Linked DNA regions of Homo sapiens: region 2 is linked to region 1. Evidence: fine-mapped expression QTL. A gene starts in region 1. The other region holds a variant in brackets. All regions are shown on one strand. Distances are between the middles of the regions. Region 1 holds the start of STX3 (syntaxin 3). Region 2 overlaps PATL1 (PAT1 homolog 1, processing body mRNA decay factor).

Region 1 (2,917 bases):
CAGGAGACAACCCCAGTTCTAATCCAGTCCAGTGCTTCCCAAACTGTAATGTGCCCATGAATCACCTGGGGAAATGGATGAATAATTAGATTCTGATTCTGCGGGGCTAGACTCAGGCCTAAGCTGCTACACTTGTAACAAGCTCCAAAGTAGATGGACTAAACTCTTGAGTGTCAAGGGCTAGATTTTAATTCTATTAAGGTAGAACCTGTGCCACTGAATCTCCAAGGCTTAGCACTGGACCTCCCCATAGAATACACTCAATAATTATGTACTGAATGAGTCAATGAATATCTGGCTTAAAACCCTATGCGTTAACCCTTTTCTGTATCAAGTTCCATTGTATCAGCTGATCCTCCCAACAAATTCCTAGGGTATGATCATTCCCATTTGATAGATAAGGAAACAGAGACTCACAGTAAGTAACCTAAGGCTTTACAGCTTTTGCGCAGCCAAGGCTGGAGGTAGTCTACCTTCAGATCCTTTGACCTAACCACAGCTGTTCCAAAAGATACGGCGGGGGAGGGGGGGACAATGACACCCGGGGATAACAATTACAGACCACCGGTTGGAGAGGAGCTGACCCATCCCAGCATGTGACCGGCTCACAGCTCCAGAGGTCACCAGAGAGCTCTGAGCTGCTCCCTGGGGGAAGGGGCAGCCAGGCCTGTAGCACCTCAGGAGAGAAACAGGAAAGGGAGAAGGAGGCTGGTCCTGGGCATAGTGCCAGGCAGCAGTGGGCAGGTGGTGAAGGGACCCCTGACCTCCCGGGCCCAAGCACCCGCTTCGGGAACCAGCTCTGGACAGACACTGTCCAGCTTGCGGGGTGGGAGAGTTAGAGGCGTTCAGGAAAATCATTGCCTAGCGATGAATCACCGGGCACATGACCCCGCAGGGGAGGGGAGGGGAGGGTGCGGAACCGGCGCGGGAAGCGGTGGGGGCTTGGGGAGGGCAAGCCTCCGGCTCGGGCCCCCCTCCAGCCTCGACTTGGGGAGCAAAGGGAAGCCCCTCTCCCATGCAGCACCCCTCCTGGCAGCACCCCGCCTGCGGCGAAACTCACGGCCTTCAGCTGCTCCAGACGGTCCTTCATCCTGAAGCCCAGGCGCCCGGAGGCAGGTAGCGCGTCCCAGGTGAGCGCGTCCCAGGTGAGCGCTTCCCAGGTGAGCTGCCGGAAGCGGCGGCCGGGCCCGCCGGGGCGAAGGAGCTGGAGGCGCAGGCGGCGGCGGGCGGCGGCCGCTAGCTAGGAGGAGCGTCCGAGGCCACGGGAGCCTCCGCCGCGCAGCCCCCTCCGCCCCCACCGGCGCCTCGCGCTCCAAATCCGGCTCCCGGGCCGGCGCCGGCGCAGCGCTGATCCGCCCTGGACCCGCCCCTACCTGGCCGCGCCCCTCGCTCCTTCTTAAAGGGCCCGCGTCCCGCCACCGCCCGGCCGCCCGGGGCGTCTCCAAAGCCCCCTTCCCTAACCCGAGAGCCCTCCAGACACGCGTGGAGTCCGGGGAGAGGCCCCTGCACCGGCGGATCCTGCCGCAGGGCCGAGGAAGAGCAAGAGCGACTGTCTGGCTGCGGTCATTCGCTGTCTGTGCCGGGCTCCTCGCTAGGATCCAGTTCTTAGCCGACTCCTTGCTAGGCGGGGACAAGCTCCCGAAAACAAATAAGACAATGTGATGTGGGCTACATTGGGTGGCAGTCGAGTGTTCTAAAAATATCCCGCCAGGAGGAAGGCATTCCGAGTAGCGGGATCCCGCGCAGCCTCAGGGCTGCTGGCAGTGAAAGTGGGGGGATGGAGGAGGTGTCCAGAGGAAAGACCTGGAGATCTGGAGATACAGGACGGTCAGGGTGGTCAGAGAATTTGGATCTTTTGCTTGTTGGAAATCGGGACCGCTCCGAGAAACGTAAGCAGCTCGATGTTGTTAGTGCCAGTGGAGACACTTGGCACTCACAATTTGCAGACGTTTGGGAAAGCATCGTTTCTCAAGAGGACCCCGTTCCCGTGTCTGTAAATCAGAGATGGTACCCACTTCGTAGTTCGCTGTGAAGCCTGTGAGCGAGGAGGGGCTTTAAAATACAGAACTTTGCACTGGAGCGCTCCCCGTCCTCGCAGCCTGCTTGGTGTGCAGGTGGTTCCCAGGCGGCTTCTGCTTCCGAAAAGCAGATCGTCCCTTTATCTCGAGTCTTCTCCCCGCCTCTCCCTCTTCTCCCTACCCTATTTGTCTTCTTGGGAACAAATGGCACATTCATCAGAGTGGAGATCCATAAACGGGACTGGCGAGCCGAAGATTTAATTCTGAAGAATAGGATCTGCTCTGTGCTTTCAGGTTAAAAAGCTGTAAATATCTTTGTAATTCTAGCAGTACTTTGCCCTCTTCTGCCATCTGAACGCGTGCTCCCTGCTGACCTCATCGGCTCCCATAAAGATACGGTGCGTATGGCAGAGGTCGGGCTTTGAGCCGGCCCCGCGGGTCTCGGCCGTAGTTCTCTCTCGCGTCCGGCACACTTCCTTCTGCCCGCTGTGCTCGCTGGGCAGGTTGTCCCCGCCTTAGTACCAGGAGGGCTTCCGCGCCCCCTGGTGGTCATACTAGGAAAGGCGAGTAGATCAGAAATACACACTGTCCCACCTCCTTCCCCTAACACATTTTTGGGGAGTTTGGGGGTTGTTTGTTTGTTTGTTTGTTTGTTTGTTTGTTTTTTAGACAGAGTCTCATTCTGTTGCGCAAGTTGAGTGCAGTGGCGCGATCACCGCTCTCTGCAGCCTCGATCCCCTGGGCCCAACCCATCCTCCCATCTCAGCCTCCCAAGTAGCTGGGATTACAGGCGTGCGCCACTACGCCCGGCTAATTTTTGTGTTTTTTTCGTAGAGATAGGGTTTCGCCATGTTGCCCAGGCTGGTCTGGAACTCCTGTATTCAAGCCATCCGCCCGCC
Region 2 (2,917 bases), 92 kb after region 1:
TCTTTTTTTCCTGAGTTTCTATTTTTTCTCATAAGATGGGAATAATATTGCCTTAAAAGGATGTTAGAGTGTCCGGAACGGTATTTTATATGATGGGAAAGAAGAAAAGTGTACACGTGCTGAAAAAGCCATTAGGTTTACACAGTAAAAGAACAGGTAGTACAAAGTTAAGGCAATTAAATAGCATATGATTAGCCCACTTTGTACCTTAGGGCCAAAGGGTGATTAGAAAGGATTTTTTGGCCAAGAAAGTTTATAATAATATAGAGAAAAGATTTCCAAAGGTGAGCCCTTTCCCTTGAGAGTGTAATGTACTGGAATTGTAAAGTGAAGATCTTAATTCCTCATAACAGCTTGGTGTAAATACTATAAAAAGAAAATTGTTTTCCAAGTCAACCTGTGACTTCTTTGATACTCCTCTGCAGGTTGATATAAAGCTGGTATAGAGAGTTTAAATCAAGAGGTGAAATGTCAGACCTTTGACATTTGTTTTGATTTTATGATTTTTAATTCATATAGCGGGCATCTGGAATAATACCTGCTATTACAGTAGACATTTTAGGTCACTGGCTACAAATGGTCACCTTTCCTTAAGAAACTAGTCTTCTGCATGAAAAAATGTTTGCATCATCTTAGAGCAATAAATAGTGTTGCAGTAATCCCAACTCCTTCTCTAAAAATAAAAGCTTACACTTAACATGGTGCTTATTATGTGCTAGGCACCATTCTAAATATTTTACATATATTGTTAATCCTCATAGCAGCCTTGTGAGATAGGTACTATTATTATCCTCATTTTAACAAATGAGGAAGAGTGACGGGTTAAGTAACTATAGACACAATTACTGTAAACTACTAGTTATGTTTAATAGTTTTGGGGGAGTCTTTGGAAATCTCCTGCCTCCACTTGGAAGGAATCACCCTCCTTCCTACCTCCCTTTTATTGATAGCTACTATAGTCTTTAGAGATTGAGATTGCCTTAAAATTAAATCACTTCTTCCTTTTTATTTTGTTTTCATTCAAAACTCCCTGAGACAGGCTTCAGGGGTTATTACAAGTATAAGTTTATAGAAGCAGCCAGGAATTCAGTAACCCGTATCAGAGTATAGGTTAGTTCGTTATTACGGATAATCTCTTTCCCTTCATTTGTCTGTTATTCTTTTGCCTACCTTTTATCATTTTGACCAATAATGGACTCAGGTCAAGCACTGGCATATCTAAGTAACTATATTTTTAGGTCATTTGAAAAAGATACAGGGTGAAATATTGTTTTATAGTAAGGGCACAATATCTCTAAAATACTACTTCAGATAATTTTTTACAAGAGTAAGAAAAATCTAAAATGATGATGATGGTATTTTATGGCATAGATTCCTCTGGTTACATGTTTGAAAATGTAACAATCAATTCACCAGAGATCTATTCTCACAGAATATGGCGACTTAACCAATATTTTTAAAATATTATTATTAAGGGGAAATAGATTATCCATATTTGATAGGATTTGGTAAAGTTAGCAAGCATGAATACTGGAAGTAGTGATAGAAAAGCATGCAAATTAGAACTCTACTGCATTAGAACAAATCCACTAACAAATTAACTTCTTAAATTTGGGAAGTAAATGTTTTTACAAATCCCTCAATTCAGGATGATAGATTCCC[A/G]CTCTTGTGGCATTGCTAAGTTAGTAAAGTTGCAAAAAACAATTTATCCTGTCCCAGCTTACTGTTCCTTACCAAGGATGACACAAATATGAATGTCACATTTGGTTTTTAATTACATTATTCTTTAAATATTTTCTTTCATATGACTAGTCATTTAAATTAACACTGTAATTTTCATTTAAAGTGGATTTTTCCATTTTTTGGAGCACATCAGGATAGGCTTATCAGAGACCATCATCATAAAATGGCTACCTTAAATTCTTTTCTGTAAGATGACAGTTTAGAGGAAGAGTGCCACCTGACTAGTCACTCAGGTAAGAGGAAACTATTGGGTGGGAAAGAAAATACCACATAATTATAAAGAAGACCCATGTCCCGGAGGCTTAAGTAAGGATATTTTTATAGCTTTTGCCCACAGTCTTTATCCCAGTGATGGCACAGTGATCCACAACTTAAGGAATCCCTTACCACAACTAATACATAAATCAACCAAACTAGGCAGTGGGTCCTATGATACCAAAATTATATATTTGAAAGTCCCACTTCCCTCACTCTTTGGATCACTAGTATTATGTGATACATCGTTGTATGATTAAAAATTACATATATATAGCAAATTTTAACTGTTAATGTAATCTGATTCTAAAAGGAAATTAGTTTATTTAAATAGTCACATAAAATGCTAAGATATGTATGATGTTATTACAGTATTAATTATTATATTGGAAAATTGTAAATAATCCAAATGTTTACCAGTAGGGGATAAATTACATTATAGTTTAGCAATAAAATGCAATCTTATGTAGGTATTAAAAAGAATGAGTTACTATCAGTAGTTATGCCTGTGTGCATGCATGAAAAGATGTCCAAGACATATTGCTTAAATAAAAAGAAACAAGTTAACTTTATAAACTTAACACAGCTTAAAACTGTTTAAAACTTAACACAGCTGTGGAATTGTGGGGAACTTTCACTTAAGTTACATGTGTTTATGGTGTTTGAATTTTTTAAACATGTATTTTCTCTGAAAGCAGAAAAAAGAAAGTCTCTGTTTCTGTGTTGGTTATAACCTGTTATCCCTGTCTGTTGAATTTTATAAAACATATAAAGGATGTAACTAAAAAAAGAATACCATATAACATATACAAAATAATACTTTTTGTGGGTTAGAAAGTAATGCATATAGAGATGAGGTAAAGGAAGAAATAAAATGAAAGGATTATTTAGGAGTAGCTCCATTGAGGAGGAGGAAGAA

What was found. PIP is the estimated chance that this variant, and not a neighbour inherited with it, causes the effect. A credible set is the group of variants that fine-mapping cannot tell apart.
Region 2: its variant is the best candidate, but not a certain one, in a credible set for the expression of STX3 in whole blood (INTERVAL, PIP 0.79).

What each region holds. Positions count from the first base shown.
Region 1 is chr11:59,753,779-59,756,695 of GRCh38, reverse strand. STX3 (syntaxin 3) reads right to left here and starts at 1,320. Exons shown (of 11, transcript NM_004177.5): 1 at 1,061-1,320. The coding sequence starts at 1,090. RefSeq lists a silencer at 1,120-1,379 and enhancers at 2,250-2,409, 2,346-2,640, 2,406-2,700, 2,390-2,890.
Region 2 is chr11:59,661,414-59,664,330 of GRCh38, reverse strand. The region is part of intron 2 of PATL1 (PAT1 homolog 1, processing body mRNA decay factor); the gene reads left to right. Among named protein-coding and RNA genes, the nearest start is that of PATL1, 6.2 kb to the left of the region's middle. The variant A/G (reference allele first, on the strand shown) is at 1,663.